4 separate regions of the Homo sapiens genome follow, and regions 1, 2 and 3 are each reported to be linked to region 4. Evidence: microRNA targets listed by miRTarBase, many of them from high-throughput screens and not tested one by one. Region 4 holds a microRNA gene; each other region holds the end of a gene's coding sequence.
What was found. The annotated mature microRNA hsa-miR-548b-5p reads AAAAGUAAUUGUGGUUUUGGCC and lies in region 4 at 3,402-3,423, opposite strand. An mRNA with a match to its seed (bases 2 to 7 or 8) in the 3' UTR can be bound and repressed. Matches are read on the target gene's strand: a 7mer-m8 pairs with bases 2 to 8, a 7mer-A1 pairs with bases 2 to 7 and ends in A, and an 8mer does both.

Region 1: miRTarBase lists TM6SF1 as a target of hsa-miR-548b-5p. Seed matches in the 3' UTR shown: 7mer-m8 at 1,257-1,263.
Region 2: the mRNA of PLET1 is a reported target of hsa-miR-548b-5p. Seed matches in the 3' UTR shown: 7mer-m8 at 3,728-3,734 and 7mer-A1 at 3,486-3,492.
Region 3: the mRNA of MTMR6 is a reported target of hsa-miR-548b-5p. Seed matches in the 3' UTR shown: 7mer-m8 at 1,900-1,906 and 7mer-m8 at 1,179-1,185.

The regions. Positions count from the first base shown.
Region 1 is chr15:83,135,948-83,139,947 of GRCh38, forward strand. TM6SF1 (transmembrane 6 superfamily member 1) reads left to right here. Exons shown (of 10, transcript NM_023003.5): 10 at 534-1,461. The coding sequence ends at 725. It overlaps HDGFL3 (HDGF like 3), which reads right to left. Exons shown (of 6, transcript NM_016073.4): 6 at 1-3,328. The coding sequence ends at 3,323. Among named protein-coding and RNA genes, the nearest start is that of TM6SF1, 30 kb to the left of the region's middle.
Region 2 is chr11:112,244,688-112,249,832 of GRCh38, forward strand. It overlaps PLET1 (placenta expressed transcript 1), which reads right to left. Exons shown (of 4, transcript NM_001145024.1): 4 at 3,466-4,287. The coding sequence ends at 4,112. Among named protein-coding and RNA genes, the nearest start is that of PLET1, 14 kb to the right of the region's middle.
Region 3 is chr13:25,245,369-25,250,513 of GRCh38, forward strand. MTMR6 (myotubularin related protein 6) reads right to left here. Exons shown (of 14, transcript NM_004685.5): 14 at 854-4,124. The coding sequence ends at 3,864. Among named protein-coding and RNA genes, the nearest start is that of MTMR6, 40 kb to the right of the region's middle.
Region 4 is chr6:119,065,697-119,070,841 of GRCh38, forward strand. It overlaps MIR548B (microRNA 548b), which reads right to left and starts at 3,447; the gene lies at 3,351-3,447. The region is part of intron 1 of FAM184A (family with sequence similarity 184 member A); the gene reads right to left.

The DNA.
Region 1 (4,000 bases), not on the chromosome of region 4:
CTCTTGCTGCAAGGAGTAGATGAAAGACTGATAAATGAAGCTGAGGTCCCCCCAGTGCTTCCCTTTCAATAGTTTATGCTAAAAATATTTGTTTTTTAAAACTCTGCGCTTTCTTCATTTTTATTGGAACGCAATTTGTGAACCACAACTGAGTCTGTATGCAGGATCTCCAGAACGCAAATCAGAAAAAAATTTGAGATTTTATTCAGATTTTTCTATTAGATTGAGCCACTAATGTTCGGTAAGGGGCACTTGATGGTTAAAAAACACAACTGGCATGATAAAACTACACTAAATAATATCTACTTTATTTGAACAGTCATATCAAGAATGGCCCTAAATTTAATCAAGGACTAAATTTAATGAAAGACTCTGACATTAAAGACTCTGGATTGTTTGAAGGTATTTTGCCTGCAGGTGAGACTGGTTTTGAGGGCACAGAAACGTAGCCTGAATGAACCATTCAGAACTCATCATGCATCCAACTGAACACGTTTCATGCTTACTCAATTTTTTTTTTTTAAATGCAACAGGCTCAGTTTTCTCACATTGGTGCATCTCTTCATGCTAGAACTGCTTATGTCTACAGAGTCCCTGAAGAAGCAAAAATCCTTTTTTTAGCATTAAACATAGCATATGGAGTTCTTCCTCAGCTCTTGGCCTATCGTTGTATCTACAAACCAGAGTTCTTCATAAAAACAAAGGCAGAAGAAAAAGTGGAATAAAAATATTACTTCATGTTCCTCCTTTCTAAATTACTAACTTTTGTTATACTGGTACTGATATTTTGTCCCATTTCACTCTCTTCTCATACGTGAGTACTTAAGAATATGTACATTCTTGCTCTGCACTGTATGTGTGAGCTATATGGTATTGTGTAAATTTTTTTTGAAGGAAAATGGAAATTCTTGAGAAACAGTTTGTTTAAAGAAATATATTCAAAATCATTTGTGAATAAACTTGATCATCCATCTCAATATTGTTTGACATATAAAATAATTATAAGTGTAAAAAATTACAATTTAGTGCCAACAGTAGTGAGCATGAAATGAAACTATTCAAAAGAGAATATGGCCTGTGCATATTAAAAAATTCAAAACAGTGAATGCAGACTGGAGGAGTAACTTTTGCAAATAAGATGAATATGCTTCATTATTAAACTCAATATAAAAGGCAAATCATCAGAATATTTTTAAATGTTGTTTGAAAAATGTTTTCCCAAGGAAAGTTTATTATTTGCTGCTGTTTCAAGAAAATTACTTTTACTAAATTTTTTTGTGTGAATTTAAACAGCTAAATAGGGATCAGTAACTTTATCTCTATCCTTAATGAACATTTGTTTTATTGGTGGCTGGAAATATTTCTATTGTATTTCTGTGTATATTTTTAATAAAATTATTTTTGGCCTCTTATAAAGACAAATCTTATTAAATTTGAAACATTTCATATATACACATAAAACGCTTTTAAAGAAAATTTGTGAGTTGTATATTCCAATTCAAAATGCCATCTACATTCCCCTTATGTTTCAGTGTGAGCAATGAAGAGGTCTTTTGATGAATTAAATTTCATTAATTAAAAAATACATTCAAATATTCAAAATTAAAAAGGACCTTTTAAGGAAGAAGTATTAGATCGACATCCCTACTATCTTTTTATGAACTTTTCATGTTTGGGATTGTATGTTGAGTATACTAGAGAAAATCAGTATTCACTAAATGAAAGAAACACACCAAAAATACAAACAGCCACCTCCTCACTGTGCCCTGGAATGATAAATGGACTGGTGCTTTCATACCCTTAGCTGCCATCATCACCATCATCATTATTAACGGCCCTAGGCTTTTAGGTCTGCTCACATTTTCTCATGTTTTTATTAGCTCTCATCAAGAAAACCAAAAGAAAATGGGATACAAATCAATGCATGGATAATATCAAATTACAAAATCTAGGGTCCACTGGGCTGGTAAATATGTAAGTGTAAGCAAATCATGTAGTCATCTCCCCATCATCCCCTACAGTGTTTTCAAATAATCTAAAACCCAGAGAGTGTTTAAAAAAAAAAAAAGAAAGAAAAAGAAAAACCCTCACCTGCACTTGATTCTATTGTCAGCTTGCTGTGAACAATTTTTGCTTTAATATATGAATTACATTAATACCTCACGTTACATATATGAAGCCAAATTACACTAACTTAGTTTGCTTACAACCTCAAATCTTACTCCCAGTACACATTCCAATAAATTTATTCTGTAAAAACAATACATTTTTTTGTTTTTGATTTTTTTACAGTAAACTTTTCAACTACAAACCGTGAATACGCGAAAGATGTTCCAAGGACAAGCATTAACAGGATTGATAAAACCCAAACTGACTAAATGTGTTCTCACAATATAAGCTGGCATAAAAATAAATAAAATTCTCTATTATCACAATAGCAACAATAATGTACACATAATAATGGTTTAAGGATGAATATTAACTATTCTAATTGTAGTTCCAAAAGAAAACAGTTTATTTTAAAAGTCTACATTTAAAAGTCAATGCTTTGTCTGGTTTCCCATAGGGCTGTTGCTGATTCCAGCTTTAAAATGTAAAGTATCCACCTTGAGTGCTTAGCTCAAAATTGTATTGGCACTGGGAAAAAAATAAATCATTGCCTTTATTTTGGAGTAACACAAAAAGACTCACTAACTTCACATATAGAAACTTAGTTTGTGTACATAACAATATGAATTTTGAGAAGTATAAGCTGTCAACTAGCTATTTCTAATACGGAATAGATATTTTACAATATGGTTAAACTTTACACATGGCCTCAAAACTGAAGGACAATTTTAATTTCGTCTTCAATATACCAACGTTATGTATTTAGGAATTAATTCCTGGGTTCTGTCACAGAGAGGAAATTCCATTCTTAAGCATTATGTTGAGTGGTCATCTAAAAAATGTTAATTTATATTTAACTGAGTGTTTGATGATGGTGGGGTCAAGGCAGGAAAACGATGATCATAACTGCCTTGATAAAAGGATCCTAGACATGTATAAGTCTGCGCAAAAATCTTGATAATCCTTAGTGGTTAAGGGCAACTTCATGCAACCAAATAACATGAAATTAAATCAGTAACTTTTAAAAAAGGCTAAAATGTCTTTTCCCCCCGAAACACAACAGAGAGGAATATGAATAATGTACATACAAACTGGGGTTCTGTCAATGACAACAAGGACTATGTGTTGGTTCATATCAAATCCAAGAATATTAGACAACCAAACATATAACCTTCTTGTGGTTTCTCTTAATATGCAGCATTCATTATGGTAGTTAGGTCTGTAAAAAAAAAAAAAAGAAAGAAAACAAGCCTTTAGATGATTTAGGATACTAACAATGAGAGCTATCCACACCTAGATAGTACATAATTGGGTTTTCTGAAATTTTAATATGCACTGCAGCATTAACAATACTTACTGAGCAAGAGCAGCTTCTGTGGCTTTGCTTTAGACCTGTCAGTGCAAAAAGTTAAAGGAAATCCTAGGGTATTTTTAGTGTCCCATAGAAAAAAATTATAAACCTTGTCTACTGTCTGTTAGGACAGAGTGCAGCAGTGCACATTCTACAATTCTAGGACTATGTTTATTGCTGGAATACATCATCAGTGGAGAAATTGATATAATCTATCTTTGTGAGGACATTCTTCAGAAAGAAAGGTAAGCTGTGTAAAATTTAAAAAGCACTTAGAGTGTGCACCAATTAATCTTCAGAATATTTATAACTTAATTACTTGTGACACATAGCTCAAACAAATGTAGAAGTTAATCATGATGTACAAAGTCTCTGACTTCTTGCTTTTAAAAAAAACATAAAGAATAAGAGGAAGCCTAGATTTCTTTTAAAATTTAGATGGCATCCGTGTGACAAACAGAAAATAAAACATTTGTTTCATAAAAGAATTATGTTTCTATTTGGGTCCCACTTTAAATTGTGTCTGGTTCTATTTCCCCA
Region 2 (5,145 bases), not on the chromosome of region 4:
AAAACACTAGCAAAGTGAATCCTATAATACATCAAAGGATCATTGACTATGATCAAGTGGGACTCATCCCAGGGATGCTTCAAAAATGATTAAATTTACAGAAATAAACATGATGTACCATATTAGCAGAATCAATAACAAAAACCATATAATTTTTTCAATAGATGTCAAAAAGTATTTGATAAAATTCATCCCTTTATCATAAAAACCCTCATCAAAATGGATATAGAAGGAACATACCTCAAATTATTAAAGGCCATCTATGTCAAACTCATGGCTAACATCAGACCGAAAGGGGAAAATTTGAAGGCCTTTTCTCTAAAGACTGGTACAAGATAAGAATTGCCCACTTTTACCACTTTTATTCAACATGATACTGGAAGTCCTGGTCAGAGCAACTAGGCAAAGAAAGAATAAAAGGGCATCCAAATTGTAAAGGAAGAAGTCAAGTTAACCTTGTTTGAAGAGGACATGATCTTATTACTTAGAAAGACCTAAAAACTCCACCAAAAAACTGATAGAACATAAAACAAATTCAGTAAAGTTGCAGGTTACAAAATCAACATACAAAAATCAGTAGCATTTATATGTGCCAACAGTGAACAATCTGAAAAATCAAGAAAGTAATCCCATTTACAATAGCTGCAAAAAATATAAAATACCTAGGAATCAATCTAACCAAAGAAATAAAAGTTCTGTACAAGGAAATAAAATTCTGATGAAAGAAACAGAAGAGGACACCAAAAAGTGGAAATATATTCCATGCTCATGGATTGGAAGAATAATATTGTTAAAATGACAATACTACTACAAACTACTTACAGATTCAATGCAATCCCTATCAAAATACCGATGACATTCTTCACAAAAAGAGAAAAAAAAAAAACAAACCTAACATTTATATAGAACCACAAAAGACCCTGAATAGGCAAAGCAATCCTGAGCATAAAGAACAAAGCTGGGTTGGGCATAGTGGCTTATACCTGTAATCTCAGCACTTTGGGAGGCCAAAATGGGAGAACTGCATGAGGCCAGGAGTTCGAGCCTGCAGTGAGCTATGAGTGCACCACTGCACTCCAGCCTGGGCAACAGAGTGAGACCCTTCACACACACACACACACACACACACACACACACACACAAAACAGAGTGAGACCCTTCACACACACACACACACCACACACACAAACATACCCTGAAACACAAAAACCCCCAAACCAAAAAACAAAGCTGGAGGGATCACAATACCGGACTTCAAAACTTATTACAAAAGCATAGTAACCAAAACAGCGTGGTACTGGCATAAAAGCAGACACATAGACCAGTGGAACAGAATAGAGAACCCAGTTATAAATTCATGCATTTATAACCAACTCATCTTTGACAAAAGCACCAAAAACTTAGAATGGGAAAAGTCCAGTCTTTTCAAAAAAAATGGTGCTGAGAAAACAGCATAACTATGCAGAAGAATGAAACTAGACCCCCATCTCTCACTATACAAAAATATCAAATCAAAATGGATTAAAGAGTTGAACCTAACACCTGAAACTGTGAAACTCCTAGGAGAAAGCATTGGGCAAATACTTTGAGATGTTGGTCTGGGCAAAGATTTCTTGTATAAGACCTCAGAAGCACAGGCAACCAAAGCAAAAATAGACAATTGGGATTACATCAAGCTAAAAAGTTTCTGTACAGCAAAGGAAACAGTCAACAAAGTGAATAGACAATCCACAGAATGGGAGAATGGGAGAAAATATTTGCAAACTATTCACCTGATAAGGGATCAATAATAAGAATACATAAGGAGCTTAAACAACTCAATAGTAAAAAAAAAATCCAATTTAGTAATGGGCAAAAAATTTGAACAGACATTTCTCAAAAGGAGACATACGAATTGCCAACAGGTGTAAGAAAAAATGTTCAGTATCACTAATCATCAGAGACATGCAAATCAATATCATAATGTGATATCATCTCACCCCAGTTAAAATGGCTTGAATCAAAAAGACAGGCACTAACAGATGCTGGAAAGGATGTGGAGAAAGGGGAATCCTCATACACTGTTGGTGGGAATGTGAATTAGTATAGCCACTACGGAGAACAGTATGGAGGTTTGTCAAAAAACTGAAAATAGAACTACCATGTGCTCCAGCAATTCTACCACTAGGTACATATCCAAAAGAAAGGCAGCATGGTGCTCAATAAGTATTTATTGATAAATTAGCCTGAAGCAATGTGGGATAGCCATTACCTAGATCAGAAAGGTGTGGTTTTTATGGATTACACTGTGGTAAAATTCCTTTTATATATATTTTTGAGGAGAGAGGGTGGAAATGTTAACAAAAGCGGGAACTTTTGGAATACAAAAATTAGGATCTTATAGTACTTTCATAGCAACATTAATGAAGCATAAGGTAAATGCTTAGTAAATGATCATTCGTAGGCTTTTTCTCATCCTATAAAATTGCTCAGCCTTTTTGGGGAGCCACCTGTTGTTCTTGAATCAGAGCTGGTGTGGAGTCAACCTAGGAGTCAGCATCTTAGAAGAGATTAGGAGCATGCTACTTCTCTGAGCCCCCAAATTAGTAGATGGATAATCTTAGGAAAATTGGTTGTTTAGTTCCTTCTGGTGAGTATTTTTGGATGCTTGAAAAGAATCGTAGCCAACCCATCTCTTTGGCAGTTAAACAAGCATATATGACTAAGCAGATTGTGTATTTACATAGGACACGTATTACATTTCAGTTACAAACACCAGGGAGTGATAAATATCATCAAGGTGTCCTAAGTGGGGAGGGAAGAATAGAGTCGGAATTCTTACGAGGTGCACAATTTTAGGGATCAGCAAAGAATGTTGGCATCCTGGAATTTAGCATCATTATTAAAAGAAAACTTTGTTGCTTATTACAAGCTTATTACTGGACATACCATGTTTCCTTCTGGTTGTACATTGCGTTATATATATTATAAATAGGGTGTTGAGTCCAATCTCTCTCCTTCACTGCAAGACCCTGTTGCAGTGGTCCCTATACACAAATATATGTGTATATAGGTGTTGTTATCCCACATCCTTCAGCCAGTTAAGGGCAGGGCTGACTCTGAGGCATTGTGGGAATAACAACACTGCCTATATACACAAATACGTGTGTATATATGTGTGTGTATATATAGGTGTGTGTGTATATATATATGTATATATACACACACACACACACACACACACACACACACACACACACACATATATTTTGCCCATTTCTTAACAGAAATTACTATTAGGGGAAAAATGACCAGTTTTCACTTGAGGGAAATGAAAATTGAGATAGTTTTGCCCCAAAGTCTGGTCTTGAAAACACACATACACTCACCATTTGATTCGTTCTTTAATACCCACACACAAATAATACAATTAGACAACATTCTCTGTGTTTTAACTTACTCATTAGAGACTTATATTTGAATGGAACACATTCATTATTCTTGTTTAAAGTATAATTTATTTGTTGTGACAAAAATGTTTTTATAACATAGTTTTTTTCTATATTGGCTTCTCAGACATGGTTCGTTCCTGTTCTCTTGCCCTTCAAAATCTACTGGTGTGGACAAATGGGAAGCTGCCAGCAGCCTCAGAGCTATTTCTCCTTTCTCCTTTCTTTCTTGAGTCACATGAGTCACAGAAGTTCCTTGTAACCTGAATGGGTTTGGTTAGAAATCTGAGATCATCTTGAAAGTAAGGAAGGATTCTTCCCACAGAAACTCAGAGGTTGCAGGGGAATCATTTGGCAGTGAACAAAAGTTGAGATTGGCTGTGGAATTGGCTGCCAACCTGTTCAACCAATAGGGAGAACCTAGGTGACTAAGTTCCGGCCAGTTCTAAATATTTTCAAAAAGTGTAATATGTGTCCTGAAAGATCCAGATGAACATCTATGTGACCCAAGCCTGCCAATGAGTGCCTCCAGATCTTTGTTTTGGTCTGAAGCCGTGGCAGCAAAGTTGCACATTTGAGAATGTAAAGCCTTCATTTACACACATTCGGTTCCCAGCACTAGCTTGGAACTGAATGTAGGAGGATGCAGTGGAGGCAGAAACAATTGTTTCCCTGGCTTCCCTTTAGAAGAGAAGTGTGCTGGTGAGAAAAGCAAGCAGGATATAAATGGCCTCTGTGATGGGGCTGCTGAAGACTTGGTTGGCCAAGCCTTCGAGTCTGATACTCTTGGGTGTAATCATGAAGAAAGGCTTGAAGGCTGAGCTCTGGGGAATCTTGGCAGCTAAGGCTAAGGTTGACACTGGAAAGGTGGTTGAGGGTGCGGTTGGCACTGGAAAATGGCATCGGAACCTCCGTTGGGTGGTGGGTGGGCACTCGAGAAAGGAGGGTAATCTGATGGAATGCTAGAGCCAGATTCATGAGCAAAATTCAATCAACCCTTCTCCAGTGCCAAGTGTTTTCAGAGGAGGGGAAAAGCTGGGGGTTAAACACACAGGGTTAAGTAACAAAAATAAGGAAGAAACACTTTCTACCCTTAAGGTCTGCATAGTTCTATGAGATGAGGTGGAGACCTATTGAATTTATACAACTGCTGCATTTGTTGTTGGGGTGGGTAGTCTCCTCCTGAATGTAATCTTGTCTTTAATAGATTAGGTTAATCAGTGCAAATATGATCCAGAATGACACAATGTTATTTTCTTCTTGTGAATTTCAAGGGCTTGTAAGAACCAGATCCAATCCAGACCTGAGGACGGCCATCCCTGCTTTAAAGTTAATGGAAAGGTGCCCAGTCCAAAGCCCCGACTCTGTTTCTGTGATTTCTGAGGCACTGGTCAGTTTTATATGAAGGGACCTGATCACACATTGGTTCTCTGAGGTTAACTTGCAGAGAAGCACAGAAAGCTAGGCCCATAGTCCTGAGGGGTTGTCTGATCCTGGACAAACTGGAGGTTGGCGGGAATACCTCCAAGACTCTGAGTGGACTGTAGGGAGGTCTGTAAGGAAGAGGAAGAGACCAGATGTCTGTAATCCCAGCACTTTGGGAGGCTGAGGTGAGTGGATCACTTGAGGTCAGGGGTTCGAGACCAGCCTGGCCAACATGGTGAAACCCTGTCTCTACTAAAAATACAAAAATTAGCCCGGTGTGGTGGCAGGGGCC
Region 3 (5,145 bases), not on the chromosome of region 4:
CTACTGACGCAAAATAGCAGGACAAAGGCCATTTGGGAACTAATGGAAAAACAGAAATTTGTACAAATGGTTTCATCCCTCAGGAGGGGCACGCTTACACCACAGTAACAAAGAGCCCAAATTCTCAGTGGCTTAAAACAAAGGTTTATTTCTCACTCCCACTTGTATCACAATGTTTCAGAAGTGTGATGCTCCCTAGCCTGTTGCTCTTTATACAAGAGTAATTCTGAGGTGGGGCGTGGTGGCTCACGCCTGTAATCCCAGCACTTTGGGAGGCCAAAGCCAGTGGATCACCTGAGGTCAGGAGTTTGAGACCACCCTGACTAACATGGAGAAACCCCGTCTCTACTAAAACAACAAAATTAGCCCGGTGTGGTGGTGCATGCCTGTTATCCCAGCTACTCCGGAGGCTGAGGCAGGAGAATCACTTGAACCCAGAGGCGGAGGTTGTGGTGAGACAAGATTGTGCCACTTTAACTCTGTCCTGGGAAACAAGAGTGAAACTCCGTCTCAAAAAAAAAAAAAAAAAAAAAAAAAAAAGAATAATTCGGCATCCCTTTAAGAACAAACAAGATGTTTACTGACCATGATGGGTGGTTTACAGCAGTGTTTCTCAAAGTATGATTCCCCAACCATTTGCATCACAATATCCAAAATATTGCTAAGTGCAAACAATTTATTGGTATGCAAATGATTTTAACTCCAGAGTCCCAACCCCTAACTACTGAATCAGAAACTGAACACCAGGGCTATAGAGTCTACTACTAGCTTCTGAAAGTTCCTTTCAGTTATGCAGGCCACTATTTTATAAAAGTTGCCATTTAAATGGATATTTTACTTTCCTAGAAATAACTAGAGTAGCACAAATACTGTTTATTAAAATGTCAAGGTTTCATGTTTACATTTTCTTATATCAAGTACAATGGTATATATACTTTTTTTTGAGATAATTATTCTAGATTCCAGGCTTTCTTCTAGATGTAAGTTCCTAAAGCTTATAGTTTACATTGATATCTAGACATATATCTTAAACAGTCTCCAAATTTTCTTTAATTAATCAAAGTATGTTAATGTCACTTGGAATTCTACATGGAAAAGCCAACAAAATAACTAAAACTTGACTAATGAAGATCAGCGTCACTAATAAAAGTCTGCAACTGTAGTATTAGGTTGGTGCAAAAGTAATTGCGGTTTTTGTCATCACTTTCAATGGCAAAAGCCCCAATTACTTTTGCAGCAACTATATAGTTTTATAAATGATCAGCATTTAATCCAACTTAGCATGTCAACTGGAAATTTTTCAATATTTTAAAGCTGACCTTCTGCAAAAAATGTTTCAAAACAGGCTTGACTGACACCACCTCCCTGCTCTGCTACCCGACCAAATAAATTGAATTTGTTTTAAAAGAGTTCCCTTCATCTTTACTCAAGATTCCCTGAGCTACTTCTAGCCTAGCTGACCTTTTCAAAACACCCTCAATAAAATTATCCTCTTGTCAGCCAGTTATTTTCTTCCTCATATTTACATCCAGATCTGCCTTTGGAGAGACATTTCACCTCGAATGTTTGTACTCAATGGACCCTGCCTTCCATCAAGTTGGCAAGGGCACAAAAAAATAGTGATTGTAATATAAGCAAGTGACAGGAACAAAATGAAAACTTAATGACATTATTACCTACATCTGATGGGCCTTTTAGCCCACTATACCTATTTTAAATATTCTGGAAATTATTTTTGTATGAAACAGGTATTATTTATCAACAAACTTTTGGAAAATAAACTCCTCAAACCTTATGCTGTTATGTTAATGTAATGGGCAAGTCTACTTGCCTAGGTGAGAAGAAAAAAAAAACAACTACAACTTGATTCCATTTGTTTTATCCAGAAGAAAAACATTCAAAGTAAAATGTGAACATTTAATTACCTTTAAATCATATATGAAGTAATTTACATGCTATACACTTCCAAACACACTGAACATAAATTCAACTTTATAAGACATATACACAGTCTGCTTTTGCCAACATATACCCTGTAGGTCACTTAAGATGTAACTGATTTCTCAGTCCACCTGTGAGCATATAAACACACAAATATATGTCTGAAGTTGAAGATTAAGATAATAAACCAGAGTTGAATACAAGAAGTCAGCCACAGAAGATTCTAAAACCACAATCAGTGACTGGAACACCAAGGCACAAAAACTTCCCTTTGTAGTCACAGAGATTAAGTTTCCATTCCCAGTGCTTAAATATGGAAGCAGGATTGGTTAATCACATACTATATTTTATAGTGCATTTCTGTTGCTGTTTAAAAAGGAATATTTTTTAAATTACATAATGTATTACAGAAAAGCATTGGAAAAATAAACAGGATAAGATAAGCTCTCATACAATAAAGTTTTTTTTGGTCTGAAAAAGATGTTTATATTCAAAACTAATATAATAGAGGTGTAACAGAAAGTAGCATGAGGAACACTATGCAAATTGCCTAATACTCGAATTGTACTTCATGCCACCATGTTATTTAAATTTTCAATTTTAAAGCCAGTTGGGTGATATTGCTAATTCCAAGTGATAGTTTTGGGGTTTTTATGTTTTGTTTCTTGTTTTTTGGTAATTTAAAGATATGTACTAGTACACAGAATAAACAGTAAATATAACATGGCAAAATGAAATCTTTCCCAGAGTTTATGTTGCTTTTGTTAAACAGTAACTTTGTACTAGAATCTCTTTTTTTTTCTATATTTAACAAGAAGAAAAATAATGCTCCACATAGAAATGACTTCAAAATTCATGCAACCATGCACAACCTAAACTATCTGTACTTCCCTTTTTTATTTACCCAAAAGTTTTTGAGTAAACTGAAAGTTAGATACTCCAGGAACAGCAACTCATTGAGCAATAAGGCAGTTTAAAAATATACATATACATGTACTATTCATTGTTTCTCAGAACAGTTTTAGAGCTTTAGCTCTTTAAACTTACACAGTTGTGAAAGAAATAAAGCCAACCACAAAATAAGAATCAATGGAATGCAGTAATCCATATATAAAAGACAGTCAAATGTGCTTATACGTATTCAAGAAATCAATATTCTAAGCTGTAAATAATAAATTATCAAATGTAGCACTAAACAAATTATGATCAGAATAAACCTTCAGTTTCATTAATTTTGAATACAAAAGTGGGGCAGGCTAAACGTGAACAGTGTACTTCTACAAGTGTTTATATAGAAGTATTGTAGCATGCACCCCCAGCAGTAATGAGAGCACAATTCTTTACAAACAAAACAAGGCTGACCAGAAGAAAAACAAAACAAAAAATCTTGTTGTAGGCTGTAAAACTTAAGGGTAAAGAATCCACTGGGAATTTAAGGCTTTCTTAGAAATATTTTTCATGGCACTTTAACATTAAATATCACTAAAAGGCAAAATATGTAAATATTCATAGTTACAAAGCTACATAATTGAAAGTACATGCCATATCATTTATTAAGAAACTATGTTGTCAAATTTTGTTTTCTTGAAGTTAAATTGTACTTAAGGAAGGTTATTTATGTTTGGCTGAATTAACATAAATCATAAACGTCAATTCACTAGTGTACAGTGCAAATTGTGTTTTGAGTAAATACATCAAATACCACTCATTTCTTACAGAACTGAATGTCATTCCTTGCTGGAAATGCAATTAAAATGACTTATTTCTCTCACAAGGGTAGTTATTATCCTTCCTTCAACTATTAGCCTACTGTTAAACCCTAAAATTGTTATTAGACAAATTCCTTTTGGTTATGCTTACAGACCATCCTCACAATAATCCTTTTCTTGTACTGCAATCATTGCAGAAAAAACTCTATGAGTCTAACAAGTCATTCTTGCCACACCATACTCTAAGCTGACCACAGCAGGTTCTGATTTAGAAAACTCTTCTGCATATTCACTATAACGATTATCTGCCGGGCTGCTGCCCTCTATAGTTCGAAGAGCATCATTTACGGGTAGCAGAGTCTGCTCTTTAAAACACAGGGAAGTTTTGAGGTTAGGTGATTCAGGATGAACTGAATGTAACAATTCCTTGGTGAGGATGCCATCTGTTTGCTTATTTTTGCGTTGTTTAATTTTCTAGAACAAACACAAATTTGAAAAAATTACTAATTGCATAAGCCACAATATGTTACATGAAAAAAGAAAACATGCTTTTGCAAAATATGTTCTCTGTATGTATAATGCAAAACTAAATCTCAAAAAAGTAGAAACATTTAATGCATATGACATGGTTGAAAATCCTAATTGTGTACAATTTTTTGCTGTGGAAAATTGTTAGTTTTTATATTTATTAAACAAACAATCCAGCAAGACTTGACTGCAGGCGATCACTAGGCTTCCACACTTAAAATGGACATATATTACCTAGAAAGCATAACAGGTAAACATTTATAATAAAAGAAATGTGTATGAAACATTCACCCTGAAAACACAACAAACAAACTTGTGTAGCTAAAGGGCTCACTGACTATATAGAGTTTTTCTTACATGGTTTTCCTACAGTGGTTTGTTAGGTAAAAATAACAGACTTTAAACACAACAGAACTTTACTTTTTTAACAGAAGATTTTTAAAGTGTCCTGTGGCAGAGTATCATGCTCTCCAAATTCTTGGACTGTCCCGATAATCTTGTATTACCTATTATCCTGGACTTGCCTCTCTTGACCATATCCTTCTACAATTTACTCAAGCAGTCATTACCTCTTTATCTAAAAGATGACTAAGGGAGACTCCTGCCTGAGAGGTAGATGAGACAGTCTTACTGTTATAACTGTCTAGGATTTAAAAAATATATATATACTTACTGATCCTTTTTGCTTATATAGGATGGCAGAAAAAAGATTATAGGAAAGTCTTAGGGTAGAGAGGGATTTGTTAAACAAGACACACACAGAAAGCATAAAACATTGAGCAATTTGACATGAAAATTCAAAACATCTATATATAGCATACCATAAATAAAGTGGAAAAGACAATAGGCTGGACAAAACCATTTGTAATATATATAACTAACAAAGAATTAGTGCCTGGCATATAAACAACTCTTACAAATCACTAAGAAAAAGGCAAATATGCCAACAGAAAAATGAGCAAAGGTT
Region 4 (5,145 bases):
CAAAATGTTTCTCAAATCTCCTCCTCAGATCTGAGATTTCTCAAATCTCCTCCTCAGATTTGATATTTCTCAAATCTCCTATCTCTCTACCACTATTGTCCTAATCCATGGCCCTCATAATTTCTCACCAATACTATTACAATAGCTTCCCATTTAATTTCCTTGATTCCCATCTGTCTCTGCCAAGGGTGATCTATTTAAGACACAGAAAAGCAGTAGTACATGAGAGCTAAGGCAGCTAAGAATCAGGAGAAAGTTCTTTTCACGAATAAATGACCCCAGTATCTTTGCAGACAAGTAAGTTAAGCTTGATAGTTTCAGTAAAATAGCAGCTTATCCATCCCATGTGTACAGGGAAGGAAGAGAGGACACACGGTCCACAGCTGTGAACAATTCAGAGAACAACATCATATAGTGCAGCAATACTGAGTGATCAGACAAAATTGGCCTACATGACTTTGTAGAGAGCCATGTTGTGGTAACAATTTAACACCAAGTGTCTTAAAGCAACACAAATGTACTAACCTTAGAATTCCTGAGGTTAGAAGTCTGAAAATAGTTTTACTGGGCCAAAATCTGAAGGCTCTTGGGGAGAACTTGTTTCCCTGCCTTTTCCAGCTTCCAGAGGCCACCTGTGTTCCTTGGCTCCCTCTTTCACTTAGAAGGATCCTTGTGATTACAGTTGCCCATCCAAATAGTCAAGGATAATCTCCCCATCTCAAGATCCCTAACCTAACCACATCTGCTAATGCTAATGTCAGATAACATCTTCACAGGTTCTAGGTATTAGAACGTGAACATCTTTGAGGGTGCCATTGTGCTGCTACAGTCCAGTTCCATAATTTTCTCTAGCAATGCTCCACAATCCAGAAGTAAGAATAGAGAGAGCAAATAGCAACAGTGACTCAGGATTGAAGGTTAAAGATATACATGGTCCTAAATAGAGCAATATTATAGTAATGAGCTTGGCTCCAGATCAAATTGTTATTTATTCCAGGACAGTTATCTTTGCCAACTCCCTCATGATCACAGTAGTACTCTTAACTGGGTTCCTTTTTCTGATAATTACTAGGGGGTTGAAACAAGAAAGTGTGGACAGATATGAATTGAATTGCAGAAGTTTTCTGTATGTTGCATAAGGTTAATTCAGAAACATCCAACCAAATGTGCTATAGCCTCGAACTGTATAAGATTTCAAGTTATCTTTAGGTACATAGACAAAGACTTTTAACAAAACCAACTCCCACAGTGACAATTTATGCTAGAAAAGAAGTAACTGCAAACATGTTTTAGGCAAATGATGACTATGAAAGATTTTATTTAAACTAAAATAAATTATTTTTTAAAGGTTTTGCTCCATGCCCTGGAATCATTTACATATTTTTTTTCCTTTTTCTGATGTAGGGCAATGTGATAGATTCAAGTTTAGATCTTGAAGATTACAATTAACATACAAGGAAAGAATTTATCCCATGCTTATGATTGTAGGGTGGCCTGTAGGTGACTGGCAAGTCACACAAAAGATTAGTATTTCAGCCTCCATTATCCTTTCCACCCCTTTCATCTGAGGGTGTTTACTGAGATAATGAGAGTCAAAGTCACACTCATGTGAGGGTGTTTAGGGTGGTAATAAGAGTCATAGTCACTTAGGCCCCTAACAATAGCTGATAAACAGCAGGAGCTAAGAAAACAGCAGATGCAAAGTTGTGCTTCCATTTTTAGATACAGTTGATCTTCTTTACTCATGGACTCCCTATTTGTAAATTATCTTACTTGCTAAAATTTACATGTAACCCCAAAATCTAACACTCAAGGTGTGCTAAATAACCTTTGTTCAGGCATGAGTTATAGTGATATTTGGCTGTGGCTTCACTGTTAATGGATCAATATATATTTTAAAAGGTGTTTTAAACAGAAACACACATAAAACAAGGTTATACATTGATCAGTTGGTGAAAATGTTGTGACCAGAGGGTGTCAGGAACCTAGCTCTGTATTCTCCCTAGACCATGCAATACAACGACCACGAATAATGAGAACTGACTATATTTTATTTGCTGCTCAACCTTTACTTGACAGCTATGGTCCCCAACAATGTAGACTATATATCCATCAGAAAAGAAAATATAGCTGGGCACAGTGGCTTGCACCTATAATCCCAGCTACTCAGAAAACTGAGGTGGAAGGATCACTTGACCCCAGGAGTGTAAGGTTGCAGCAAGCTATGATGGCACCCCTGCACTCCAGCCTGGGCAACATAGCCAGACTCTATCTCTAAAAAATAAATAAATAAACAAACAAACAAAATAAAGACATATAAAAACCTACTTTATTGTTTTTTTGTGTGTGGGTTTTTTTTTTTTTTTTTTGAGATGGAGTTTCACTGTGCACCCAGGCTGGAGTGCAGTGGCGCAATCTCAGCTCACCACAACCTCCGCCTCCTGGGTTCAAGCAATTCTCCTGCCTCAGCCTCCCGAGTAGCTGGGATTACAGGCATGCACCACCACACTCGGCTAATTTTTGTATTTTTAGTAGAGACAGGGTTTCACCATGTTGGCCAGGCTGGTCTCGAACTCCTGACTTCAAGTGTGATCCACCCACCTCGGCCTCCCAAAGTGCTGGGATTACAGGTGTGAGCCACTGCGCCTGGCCTAAAAACCTACTTTATTGTTAAAGAGTATGTCAGCAGAGGCTTAACCAAGTGGGGAGGGGATAGTGGGTACAAACTGACTTCTCTCTCCTGCATCAATTATCTCCTTTAATCTTTATAATAATTCTATGAAGTACGCTTTGTCATTCTCATTTTACAGATGAGGACAAGACAGCCCTGAGTGGTTAAAATATGTATTAAAAGTCAAACACTAGGAAGTGGTGAAGGTGAACTTCAAATAAGGGAATGCCTAACTTACTGAACCACACCTCTGACCCATATGATGGGCACTGCTGCCTCACTGGGCCGTTTGGCTCTGGGAACAATGTGGCTCTCCGGCTGCCCATGAGAAACCTAAACCTAACACAAACACATTAACTCCGGGGTTTCCAAGACTGAAATTTCCTTTTACCCGCTCTACCCCCCAGCCAAATATATTAGAGATTTGTAACCAGAATATGTCAACTGAGTCATCAAAACCTTATTAGAGAATTTAGAAGGTATCAGTATAGTTTCTTTATCCAAGAAAAGCACGTACATAAGTTCTACCCAAAAAGAACGAAACCAAATAGAAAAATTTGCCCATGATTACACATCTAAAATTTGTCAGAATTAATGTACTGATAAATATGTTGTAATTAAAATATATGATTAATATATTCCAGTTACATTTTCTCAAGTCTGTTGGAAAATATATGTGAAGTATTAGGTTGGCACAAAAGCAACTGAGGTTCTTGCCATTGAAAATAAAGGCCAAAACCACAATTACTTTTGCGCCAACCTAAATATATAGTCTGAAATGGAATAATAAATAGTATTAAATAATTAATAGTACCAAGCACAATGTCTTTCATAAAGTAGGCATTCGACAAGTTTACCAAACACATAGACCTATATATTCTACTTCGGTCATATCTAAGTATATTTTATTACTCTGAGTAGACCATTAAACACACACACACACACACCTTCCTCCCAAAATTCACTAGGCGAAACATCTAAAGGTAGGCAAAGAATACTATTTAGTATTTTGGTCATAAAATGTTTTCTGAAAGAAATGAGAATCTTTAAAACTGTGCTTAAGGAGCTACAGGATGAAAAATGCAAATACCTGTGAACACATAGACACACATTCGCCAGAATAAACAAAATCTGCTCAACCACCAAGGCCAATGTCTAGAATTTGTAAATATCCAAATGCGACACTTCATTTTATAAGTAAAAAAGACATGACAAGTAAAAGGGCAAGTAACAATTTATTCAGAAATTAAATATCAGCATTCATGGATTTGGCCTAATAGGACTAGCATAAGTTTGGTCCAATTTCCTATATATGCACTGATGATCCTAACAATGATCTGGAGTTGATGAAGAACTCCAGTGTGATATATGAATGGTATGATGTAAATGTAAGTATACTATATGAGAAAGTGAAAACTTATTAACCCCTATGGAAACTTCTAGTTAACTAAAATAATTCATTCTCTAATAATTTCGCATAAATAGGAATTTACCCTGTTATTTTACTAAAATTATCAATTTTATTGATAATTTAAATATTAGTAATGCACTTTATAGATGAAATGTTTTACTTTCCAACTTCCTCAAACTTTGGTATAGAGATGGTACATGTAAATAAGGAAATACAGAATTAGCAATTAAAAAAATCAAAGTACTATCTCCTTTACAATTAAATGAGGTAGCACATGGTAGCCAAGTCTAAAATATCCAAATCCCACATATGATTGTTAATCACTAAGTCTTGTTTTTCCATGTACTATAGATCCTTTGATAGTTTCAGCTTCCATTTGCATCTCAAGATAATAGTGTAAGATACAGGATAAAAAATTCATATATTCAACTTCACTACTTTTTATACATTCTCGTTGAAGTTTTGGTAGAAAAGAAAGATGTAATCCTTGGTGAAATAAGGTTACAAATGACAGTTGTTCACTGATGTAATTTAGTTAAAAGTTAAGAATCAGAGATTTTCTAAAATTTTTGCTTGGTCTTAAAGGTTAAGCATACCAAAATACAACTGGCAATCTCCAACTTGCAAATATCATTGTTTCAAAAATTCATTTTTATATATTAATTGATTGGCAGCCAAAGAATATTTTCCAATATTTTGAAGGACCATTAACTCTCTAGGTCAATCTAAAAAGCCCCCTATGGTTTAGACCACACTTGACATATAAAATATAAACCTAATAGTTTGATATGATTCCCCCATATCAAACTACCATTTATAACATTGTTTTTCTTTATTTTTATTTTTTAAAAAGTAGAGATGGGATCTCAATGTTGCTGTTTTTATTTATCTATTTATCTAATCCTGAAATCAGTTAGTGATTGTCTCCCATAGGTGTCTATCTCCAAAAAAGGGACATGGGGCACCAATTCTGACATTTACTTAATGTCCTTTACATTCTGAAGTGGGCTGCAGGATAGAAACTTCCTGTGGTGAATAAAAAGAATGGCGTTACGAACTCCCG